3 linked regions of the Homo sapiens genome follow. The protein of the gene in region 2 interacts with the protein of the main gene of each other region in a biochemical or structural test. Each region holds a gene or a part of one and is shown on either strand. Other genes may lie near its edges.

Region 1 (3,750 bases), on a different chromosome or scaffold from region 2:
GAAAACCACAAAAACGAGTCCCTTTCAGAGGAACTTATATTTAATGCCCAGTAGGGTATATGATGAAGAACCCTCACATCAAATACAGTGCACGCTGCTGTATTTATATTTTGGGTAGTTCCACTAAAAGCTATACTGCAAACAATGAGGCTTGTTGTAAAAGGATCACCTGTACAATTAAACCTCACATAGACACACAGCAAACCCAAATGTATATACTTCCCTCAGTGGAAGAAGTTGAAAATCTAGATCTAGAAATGTATAAAAAATGGCCTTGAAAACCTGCTATACCAAAATACCTCTACAGACAAGATAAAAACAAAAACAAAAATCAAACATTTGTTTTCCGGATTTTTCTTTAATACAGTTGCCATCTTACATGATGTACTATTAAGTGCCTTCTTAATAGCATCTAACCTACCCTTCTGTTGCACCGTTTGGCCTCCTGGGATGGAACTCTTGTTACCACCCATGTTTGTGGAGTACTGTTCTTCAGTACAGTACACCTAATTCATATTGTCAGGCCATATAATTCACGGGTAGTGGTATTAATTTCTAAAGCTGAATTAAAGCACACATCCAAACCACATATATTTTTTACTTTTCAACTTAAAGAGTTCATACAAAGTCTATTTCCTTTCTACAGTAGCTATCACTCCAGACTGTGGTTTAAAAATCCAAGAAGTGGGAAGAATGTCTTTGTTTTCAATGCTTCTTTCTTCCATCCTTTTTCTATCCTCCTTTTTTCCTTCTTTCCATTTTCTTTCTTCTATTCATCTCCTTCTTTCCTTTCTTTCTTAGTGATAAGAGGTTAACAGAAATGGGCTATTAAGGAAATCAAAGTCTAGTAAACGTCCAAAACAGAGATGAGAATAGTCACAAACTCTTCTTTTTGTAGTGATGTTAAATTACTGACAAATGTTTTTTTGAAAACAAAAAAATCTAAAAACCAGCACAAGCTAGTGGTGCTGCATATTATTTAAGCAACTGGCGTTCTTCAATGCTTTTGAGGCGTTTCTTCCGGGGCTGTACAAAGTCATCATCTGAATCATCACTAAATTTATTATCTTCTGATTCATTCCTGAATTCTGGTTTGGGAAACCTTTTTTCTGGATAGAGGTTCTTTAGAAGTTCTTCAAAATAATTTTCAAGTTTTATACCAGCATTGGCTACTTCTGAATCAGGCTGTGGAGTAAAAATAAAAATGAGTAAAAAAAGGACACACTTTTGACTTCTGAGATTATATATATTAATGAGCTGTTTTGAAAAGTGTTCATGCATAGTCATTGAAATAATAGTTTAGGACTAGACAAAGTCTCTGTACAGAAGGCCAGCTAAAATAAAAGATTCAGAAGTGTGGAAAAAAGATAAAAGTAAAAGCCTGGATTATTCTAAAAGAAGGTGGTAATGGTAGGACTATATTGCCAAACACATATCAGTTAGGATTCCATAACCATAGGATCATGAACCAGGTATTTTTAGAACAAATTAAATGTAGTACTATTAGAATGAGTAACAGAGAACAAACCACCAGCAGCAAAAGGTTCTAAGTCTGACTGATGTGTAGATGAACTGACAGATGAGAAATTTTTAAATTAGAGCTATTTGGCCCACATCCTTAATATTTCAAGATCAACATAAAAATAAGAAATACAGGTGGGAATGATAAAGAATATGTCTAGGTCAGAGAAAAACATTTTGTCTTTCAGTTATCAGCTGTAATTTGCATTTCCATCACCATCTAATAAACCTTTGAATATAAATGTGGACAGAGTTATCTGAATTATCTCTTGCATTCCCTGATCTGAAAAGTTGGAAATTTATTCTAACTCAGACATCTTGGTCTCCTATGTTGACAAGGTGTTTAGTAATAAAATGATTTTCACACTGCTGTTCCTTCCTGCCCCCTTCCCTCCCCTAGCCTCACCTCATTGAATTCAGCACAGTTTTGAAAGATCAATCTAAAATCAGCTACAAAATCTTCAGGTTTTGAGTACATGGAATAATCTTCTTGTAGTCTTTTCTTGATGGTTGACAAATCCATTGGATTTTTAATTATTTTGTAATAATCAGGCACCTATTAAAAAAATGAGATGTTATAATACAAATAGCTAAATTCCACCTTGTCCTAAATATATTCTATGAGATGTGCTCTAAAATTCAGAATGTTCTCATTGCTTTTCTCTGTGCTATTTGCCATTAGTAAAGAAACCCATTTAACAGTGTTTACAAGTGCCCACTGCCTTCCACACACACTGGTAAAGGTTTGTGTGACTTTTTCCAAAAGTTTAACCAATTATTATTTTTGAGACAGGGTCTTGCTCTGTCACCCAGGCTGGAGTGCAGTGACACAATCTCGGCTCACTGCAAACTTTGCCTCCTGGGCTTAAGTGATCCTCTCACCTCAGCCTCTCGCGTAGCTGGGGTTACAGGCATGCGCTAACATAGCCGGCTAATTTTTGTATTTTTTGTAGAGATGGGGTTTTGCCATGTTGCCCAGGCTGGTCTCAAACTCCTGGGTTCAAGCAATCTGCCTGCCTCAGCCTCCCAAAATGTTGGGATTACAGGCGTGAGCCACTGCACCCAGCCCCAATTATTTTTAATGAAAAAACTTGTCTTCACATATTTCCTCTTAATCATCTAGATTTTTTTCTTCATTATTAAACAAAAAGCAATTACTAGGAAGAATATCATTTCTAGTAGAATCTGACATGTTTTTGCTGCATGTATTATACAAGAGGAAGAAGGACTTTGAATCTGGGTTTAATCCCCAGCTCTGCTGCTCAGTGTCATGGTCCTGGGTAAGCTACTTAACCTCAGTTTCTTCATATTTCAAATAGGGATAATCCTGCCAAACTCACAGCATTTTGTACAGACTAAATGAGATGATATTTATTAAGAAAAAGGGGGCTACTTTGTCATTGTTGGTATTAATAACGTAACTGTAAGCCAGGATAATAAAAAGTACAATTCAAGGTTACATTTTCAAGTTGGTAATGTTGTTACAAGCCTCTCGACTTCTTTACCCTGCCTCTTTTGGGTACAAAAGACCCTTCTCCCTGGAGGTATTTATTTCCTATATCAAGTTCTCAAAACCTGTTCTTAAGAGAGAAGCTGACTGTATTTACTAAGCTGATTTTCTTCTCAACTTTGTATTAATTTGAGATTTATCAAACTGTAGAACAAATGAAAAAAAATTTTTTTTTTGGGACAGAGTTTTGCTCTTGTTGCCCAGGCTGGAGAGCAATGGCGCAATCTCGGCTCACTGCAACCTCCGCCTCCGGGGTTCAGACATTAGAAGAATACTCTTTTGGGGTACCAGGCCCTTTCCAGCACTCTAAAATTATGCGTTAAAGTCACATCAAACTTTTTTTTTTTTTTTTTTGAGACGGAGTCTTGCTCTTTTGCCCAGGCTGGAGTGCAGTGGCATGATCTCGGCTCACTGCAAGCTCCGCCTCCCAGGTTCACGCCACTCTCCTGCCTCAGCCTCCCGAGTAGCTGGGACTACAGGCGCCTGCCACCACACCTGGCTAATTTTTTGTATTTTTAGTAGAGACGGGGTTTCACCGTGTTAGCCAGGATGGTCTCTATCTCCTGACCTCGTGATCCGCCCGCCTCGGCCTCCCAAAGTGCTGGGATTATAGGCGTGAGCCACCGCGCCCGGCCACAGTCACATCAAACTTTCAATATGAACCTTTCTGAAGTCAATAGCACCTGCGCACATACTTCCTCAACTTTTTTTGTATTGGT
Region 2 (3,750 bases):
AAAAATACATATATGAAAGACAAAAGAAAAGAGACAGACAAAAAGAAACATGGCCAATCAAAAGCACAATGAGGCTGGGGGCGGTGGCTCACGCCTGTAATCCCACCACTTTGGGAGGCTAAGGCAGGTAGATCACCTAAGTCAGGAGTTCAAGACCAGCCTGGCCAACATGGCAAAATCCTGTCTCTACTAAAAATACGAAAGTCAGTTGGGTGCGGTGGCTCACACCTATAATCCCAGCACTTTGGGAGGCTGAGGCAGGTGGATCACCTGAGGTCAGGAGTTTGAGACCAGCCTGACCAACATGCCGAAACCCCATCTCTACTAAAAAATACAAAAATCTACTAAAAAATTAGCTGCGCATGGTGGCAGGTGCCTGTAATCCCAGCTACTTGGGAGGCTGAGGCAGGAGAATCGCTTGAACCAGGGAGGTGGAGGTTGCAGTGAGCTGAGATCACACCATTGCACTCCAGCATGGGTAACAGAGCAAGACTCCGTCTCCAAAAAAAAAAAAACACACACACAAATACAAAAGTTATCCAGGCGTGGTGGCACATGCCTGTAATCCCAGCTACTCAGGAGGCTGATGCACGAGAATTGCTTGAACCTGGGAGGCAGTGAGCCGAGATTGTGTCACTGCACTTCAGCCTGGGCAACAGAGTGAGACTCCATCTCAAAAAAAAAAAAAGCACAATGAGATACCACTTCATACCCACTAGGCTAGCTCTAATAAGAAAGACAGATAATAACAAGTACTGGCGAGGATGTGGAGAAATTGGAATCCTCATATATTGCTGGTGGGAATGTAAAATAGAATAGCTGTTTTGGAAAACAGTTTGGCAGTTCCTCAAAAGGTTAAACACAGCGATGGCATATGACCCAGCAATTCTACTCCTAGGTATCTACCCAAGAGATATGACAACGTAAGTCCACAGAAAGACTTATACATGAACATTCACAGCAGCGTTATTCCTAATAGTCAAAAAGTGGAATCAACCCAAAAGTCCATCAACTGACGAATAAATAAAATGTTGTATGTCCCTACAATGGAACATTATTCTGCCAAAAAAAGAATGAAGTACTGATACTATGATATGGATATTCCTTGAAAACATTATACCGGTTACAAAGACCATGTATTGTAGGATTCCATTTATATGAAATATCCAGGATAGGCACATTTATAGAGACAGAAAGCAGACTTGTGGTTACCAGGAGCTGGGGCGTGGATTTGAGGAATATGGGAAGTGACTGTTGCTGGGTATGGGGGCTCTTTCTGGGGTGATGAAAGTGTTCTAAAATTGATTGTGGTGGTAGTTGCACAACTCTGAATATACTAAAACCACTGAATTGTACACTTTAATGGGTAAATTTTATGGTATGTGAATTATATCTCAATAAAGCTGTTTTAAAAAGAAGAGGAAAGAAAGAAAAGAAACAGGGCCACAGAGACTCAAAATAAGGACTGTCCATTTCCAACACCCCCTATACCTTGCCACTCCACCCCAAGCTCAGGCTACACTAGGTTCCAAGCTCTGAACTCCAGACTCTAGCCTCAAATCTGGAGTCCAGGGGACAAGCACATGGCCAGCATTTGGTTGAAGACCAGGCCTGGGAAGGGGGAGTTCCTGCCAAGGCCACTGTGGAAGAGGCCAGGAATTCTGGCCCAGCTGAGCCAGCCAGCCTGTGTGGAACTGAGGGAGAGAGGGTGGGAGGGGACAGGTACTGGGCTAGGGAGGGGAGGCTGCCCCAGGAGTAAAATCTGGACCTTGCTAATAACCACGATTTTTACTGTTACTCATTATGACAATCATAGGGCCTCTCTCCTCACTCCTGAATAAAGAGCTCCCTTCCTACCCCAGGCCCCTGCCAATTCCCTCCTAGGCTGAGAGGGCTGATGTCAGAGGAACAGGGGCCCCACCCACTGGACCAGTTGCCGCCCTGGCCCCCTCCCAACTCCTGTGGGGCCCCACACAACGGGAACTGGAGCTGGGGGAGCCATGCAAGGGAAGAAGAGGCTGGCAGAACCTCATCAGTTCCTACAGTTGGACCCTCACACACAAATACACATACAAACTCATGCATGCAGGTCTACAGAAAACATCTGGGTGGGCAAGAGCACGCCTGCAGCCCCAGCCTGTGTGTGTGCAGGCATGCATGTGAGGAGAAGGAACCTGGAGATACCATCTCTCCACACCTGGGCTCCACCACACAATGAACACAGCTCAGAAACTGCATGCATGGGCCCCAGTACACAGCTCCCCAAAGACACAACCACAGCCCCACAGTCTCCCAAACTGTACATTCTCCGAACCTCACACAGCCAGGGTGGCCCTTGTACCTGCTGCTTCTGCCAGAAGATGCTCTGAGGTCCTCCCTGTGGGCCCAGCCCATGCACCAGGTCCACAAACACTCAGGTGAATTCACATCCACAGAGGCCTGCCTCTCTCAAGGTGAGGCCCAAGGGGCAGCTAACCCAAAGTGAGGCCTCTGTAACCCACGCTGAGGCCCAGAAAGCCATCACTCCAGATCTCAGGCATCCTGACCCAGCCTTTGGGGGTCGGGAGGCCAGTTTAGTCAGTCCAGCCTGGACCCTCTGGAACCCACCCTTGCTCCCAGAGAAGAGAAAACCACAGCCACCTCAACTCTGCCCCAGTGGAGTTTGAAATTGAATCAAACTTCAATCCCCACTACCCCCACCTCACCCCCAGCCCACCACCCACACACACTACAGGGCAAGGCTGGAAGGCCTCCCCAGACCCCTATCAGAGCCTCCAAAAAGCCTAACCCAGCTCTGCCTGCAAATTTCAGTGCAAATTTACTCAGCTCCCTGGGGAGGGCCTTGAGCCGCAGGAGGGCTAAAGGTCACAGAAATAGGCCAAGGGCCAGAAAGACCAGAGAACAGGGATGGGCAAGGGTAGGGATGACCAGGGTGGGCCCAAAAGGGCACAGACTCTGCCTCAGAAGGTCCATCAGAAGCTATGACCCTCAGAGAGACACCTGGGCCCCAGCCCCCTACACCCCAGGGGTGGAGAAGGCCTCGGCAGAGAATCGAAACCAGTACCAAAGAGAGGGAAAACAAACTACCCACATCCAACCTCCACCCTATGCCAGCCACCTCCACTGCCCACGGGCACCCTCCCCTGAGAGAGAGAAAACCACAGGCCCACACCTCCAATATATGGAGCCTAGCCTAAGCACAGCAGAAAAAGGGGTAGGGGGCTAGAGCACCTGCAACCAGCCCCACACTCCTGCCCACTGGGGCCGCTCTCACCCTCAGAAGGTGCCAGGATCCCTTCTCCAGCATCAGCATCCCTAGCTGCCCACGCGTTACACCCCAGAGTCACACACCTAGAGAAAAAGGTGAGAGCTTTCTGAGCCACGAAGATGGGAGAAAGAACCAGAAGTCGGAAGGGTCAAATCTCAGCTCTGCCACTCTGGGTGACCTTACGCAAGTCACTTAACCTCTCTAAGCATCTGTTTACTCGCCTGTGAACTGCCTACCTCAACAACGAGCTGTGCGATTTCAGACAGGAAGTCCTGGAAAGCACCCAGACCAGAGCTTGGCACAGGGGAGGCCCGGGCAACTGGAGCCCTCCATCCCCATGCCTCTTGCCACCACCTTGGTGCCCCTCAGCAGTCGGCCTGCTTTCCCTTGCCTCACCCCACCCAGGGCAACATCTGTTGACGGGGCCAGGAGGGAGAATTACCCATTTCCCAGGGTCTGCTTCCCTCGGATGGAGGAGAGGG
Region 3 (3,750 bases), on a different chromosome or scaffold from region 2:
AAGATGTCTTCCACACTCTAAGTATTTGTACACAGCATATCCCTTAGGCATCAAAATACATACTTTTTCAAGTACATGTGGTCTTCTGTTTCACAGCTGAGGAACACCACCAGAAGCATCAGAATTCTTTATGTACCAAGAAAAGGTGCTTGGTTATATGACCCCAGGGAGATCCTGGGGGGGCTGGGCAAGTCTCTGCAAGTTGTTGCTACAAAGGCAAAGGCAAATCTTGAACTGCAGGGAAGCAGACCAACTCCCACACAATTGAAAATTCTGCCTTCCCCAATCACTATGTGGTATTTACACTGCCTTTCCAAGAGGATCCCCAAAAAGCCCCAAAGCTACAGCACATATAGGCCAAAAAAATGGCTGGGTAAATTCCCATGATGCCAGGGAACTGGGTAGTTTCCAAGGGCAGAGTGTTCCAGAAAAATGCAAATCATTCAGGCTTCCCCAGAGAAATTCCAGCCAAATACAGCTGCTATCTTAGAAAGCCTAACACAAAACTGCAGTTTAGATGCTTGGATGAAGGGGCTAGAAGCACAAGGACAGGCAACATGTTTACAGTCTGCAAGGCATTCTAACTTGCCACTGAATATTCTTCCCCCTCATCCCATTTCGTATCGCCTCGGAGAAGATTCCTTGTGTGTGCGGAGCATGAAATCTATGTGTCTGCTGCTAATGTGATACCTTTTCAGCAATTTTGGGATCTTGAAGACCTTTAACTTTTTTCAAGTTTACATGAGAATTAAAATGCCTTATTTTCAATAGTCAAGTGTTTGTCACTTAAAAAAAACTAGTCCATGAGCAGTGGCTCGTGCCGATAATCCCAACTATTCGGGAGGCTGAGGTGGGAGGATCACTTGAGCCAGGGGCAGGCAGAGGTTGCAGTGAGCTGAGATCAAGCCACTACACTCCAGCCTGGGCAACAGAGTGAGACCCTGGCTCAGAAAAACAACAACAACAACAACAACAACAACAACAACAACAACAAAAATGAGAATCATTCAAAAAGAGGCCACTCTTCTCGCCATCCCCTCAACCAAGGACATGCCACAAAACCATGCGTAAAAAGTAAAGCTCTTGGGAGTCTGAAATGAAGTATTCCAATTTGGCATCTATTTTGGAATTTCTGAACAAAATGTTTTAGCTCTCAAATAGATTCAGGTAACTTTCAGCCCTTAATAAGATGCTACATTTAGCTGCATAACCCCCTCATCCATTTTAAATTATTTCTTCATTATCGCTTCCCCAAGTACATATACAGGATTATCAAGGCTTTCTTCTTTTTTTTTTTGGAGACAGGGTCTCCCTCTGTTGCCCAGGTTGGAGGTCAGTGACGTGATCTCGGCTCACTGCAACCTCCGCCTTCTAGGTTCAAGCGATTCTCCTGCCTCAGCCTCCCGAGTAGTTGGGATTATTGGCACGATAGCTGGGACTACAGGCACCTGCCACCACACCCGGCTAATTTTTTGTATTTTAGTAGAGATGAGGTTTCACCATGTTGCCCAGGGTGGTCTTGAACTCCTGAGCTCAGGCAATCCGCCCACCTTAGCCTCCCAAAGTGCTGGGATTACAGGTGTGCGCCACCACGCCCAGCCTATCAAGGCTTTCTTTAAGGTAATTTCAGTGACAATCCAGAAGTAGGAAAGATGTCTCAGATCCTCTAACCACTCGGTCTCACCAGGATTCTCTAAGTCAAATGTGACCATGCAACAAAAAAGCAGCCATCTTTCTAACGGGATCTCTGTGGCTGGTTCAATTACTCACCTATAGATTATACCCAAATTACAGAATATTTATTTCAAAACATAAGGAAATCCACTGTCAGTTCATAGGCCAAATAAGAAACATCACTCCCAATTAAAGATTTATCTTAAAAATAAAAAGCTTTGGGGCCAGGCACGGTGGCTTACGCATGTAATCTCTGCACTTTAGGAGATCAAGGCAGGCAGATCACGAGGTCAGGAGTTCGAGGCCAGCCAAGCCAATATGTGAAACCCCCTCTCTACTAAAAATACAAAAATTAGCCAAGCATGGTGGCACGTGCCAGTAGTCCCAGCTACTCGGGAGGCTGAGGCAGAAGAATTGCTTGAACCTGGGAGGCGGAGGTTGCAGCAAGCCGAGATTGCGCCACTGCACTCCAGCCTGGGCAACAGAGTGAGACTCTGACTCAAAAAAAAAAAAAAAAAAAAAAAAAAGATATTTATCTTTAAATCAAAGAGGATACCTCTAATAAAACAATCTAAAAATTTATTTAACAAGAGTTAAGTGGTATAGTCAAAGTCATTCTTTTAACCTAAAGTGTTCCTAATAATATCAAAAGAGTCAACTCAAAACTGCCATTTATTAAAAAAAATCAGAGTTCAAACTACCACTTCCCAAGCTTTAGAAGGCTTTCTATGTGAAAAAACAGGTCATGGAAATGAAGTTTCATTATTTATAAATACTGCACTAGATTTAGAAGATCCCGGGTTTTCCAAAAGTCTTAGGTTCCACTTTGTGTGTGACCTTATAGCAATTCTAGCCAATATTACAACAAGTGTAAGACATTTAACATACCATCCCCACAAACACAAAATGCATATCCTTCAAATATAACCAGCACTTAACTATCTAAAGAATGACATTAAAAGTTTTTGAATTCATTAACAGTTTTCCAACTAGTTTGTCCTATGCAAATGACTCAAACTTTCAGGCAGGCCCCAGGAAGCAGCACACAAGAAACTATTTAATTAAAGATTCAGCCTAATTCCCAGTAGTAAATCACAGGAAATATTTTGTGCCAAAGCAACCTCTCCTCGGTCCTAAAACAGTTAAGTTTTGGTTGCTTTGCATTTAAAAACTGGATTTAAGTTAAAATTCATAGTAAAATTTCTCTTTTATGACTCTTAGAACAGGAGTCTTTCAGATCTGAGAGTGAAACTTGGTTTTAACAAGTAACTCATTTTTATGAAACTAACCAAAAGACTAGTTATGAGTTAGAACAGCTCAGGTTGTTTCTTTTCTTCTTAAAATACCCTTTTACTCAAACTGAAAATGTACTTGCTGCAATCAGACTTAAACCAACTGACATTACACCTGAAACACTTACTCATTTGAGAAAGGCAGCCTACTCCAAAGCAAAGCCCCATTAGGCTCCCACTGGGAGCTGCCCAAGGGCCTCCAATTCCAGACAGATAACTTAACAGGTCTCCTAGCTCTGGCAAATAAATTTAAAAAAAAACTAAATTATTCTTGCATTTTTAAAAAAATCAGAACAAGAACCTGATAAAAATGGTTGTAAAGATGATTTAACATCAGAATCTATTTTTTAAAAACCTAAATCTTAAAAAGTGTAAGCATATTCCTAGTTTAAGACTAACACTCTGACAATGCCATTTGAGACGCAAAACTAAAAATATCCCAAAACACTTCCTTTATCTTTAAAGAAAGGCACTCCAGCAAGTTGAAGTAGGTTGTATCCATTTCCAAGGACTAAAGAATGGTGTAAGTACACACTGTACTTTGAATGCAAAAAAAGGGGGGAGGATTTTTTTTTTAAATGGCTAATACTCTGTAACAGCTGAAGTGGAATTGATAGATGAGCAAGTAAGTCAAGTACTTAAATTCAAATGTTAAGTAAAACAAGATTTGGCAGACAATTTCGATTTTGTGACTTAATAGAATATATGCTGAACTTAACGGTAAGAAGGCACTTTACTTTTTTGAAACACTTGGTAAAATTGCATGTAATGCCTGGTAATGAAG

Evidence for each region.
Region 1: the proteins of RARA (region 2) and TRIM24 form a complex in vitro, tested with the Homo sapiens proteins (3 studies listed by BioGRID).
Region 3: the proteins of RARA (region 2) and FOXO1 form a complex in vitro, tested with the Homo sapiens proteins (one study listed by BioGRID).

Annotation. Positions count from the first base shown.
Region 1 is NC_000007.14:138,582,177-138,585,926, reverse strand, and holds part of TRIM24 (transcription intermediary factor 1-alpha), read right to left. Parts: intron 2,078-3,750; coding exon 1,928-2,077; intron 1,186-1,927; coding exon 976-1,185; 3' UTR 1-975. UniProt on the Homo sapiens protein: Transcriptional coactivator that interacts with numerous nuclear receptors and coactivators and modulates the transcription of target genes.
Region 2 is NC_000017.11:40,326,076-40,329,825, reverse strand, and holds part of RARA (retinoic acid receptor alpha), read right to left. Parts: exon of another isoform or gene 2,342-3,750; intron 1-2,341. UniProt on the Homo sapiens protein: Receptor for retinoic acid. Retinoic acid receptors bind as heterodimers to their target response elements in response to their ligands, all-trans or 9-cis retinoic acid, and regulate gene expression in various biological processes.
Region 3 is NC_000013.11:40,659,996-40,663,745, forward strand, and holds part of FOXO1 (forkhead box protein O1), read right to left. Parts: intron 1-3,750. UniProt on the Homo sapiens protein: Transcription factor that is the main target of insulin signaling and regulates metabolic homeostasis in response to oxidative stress.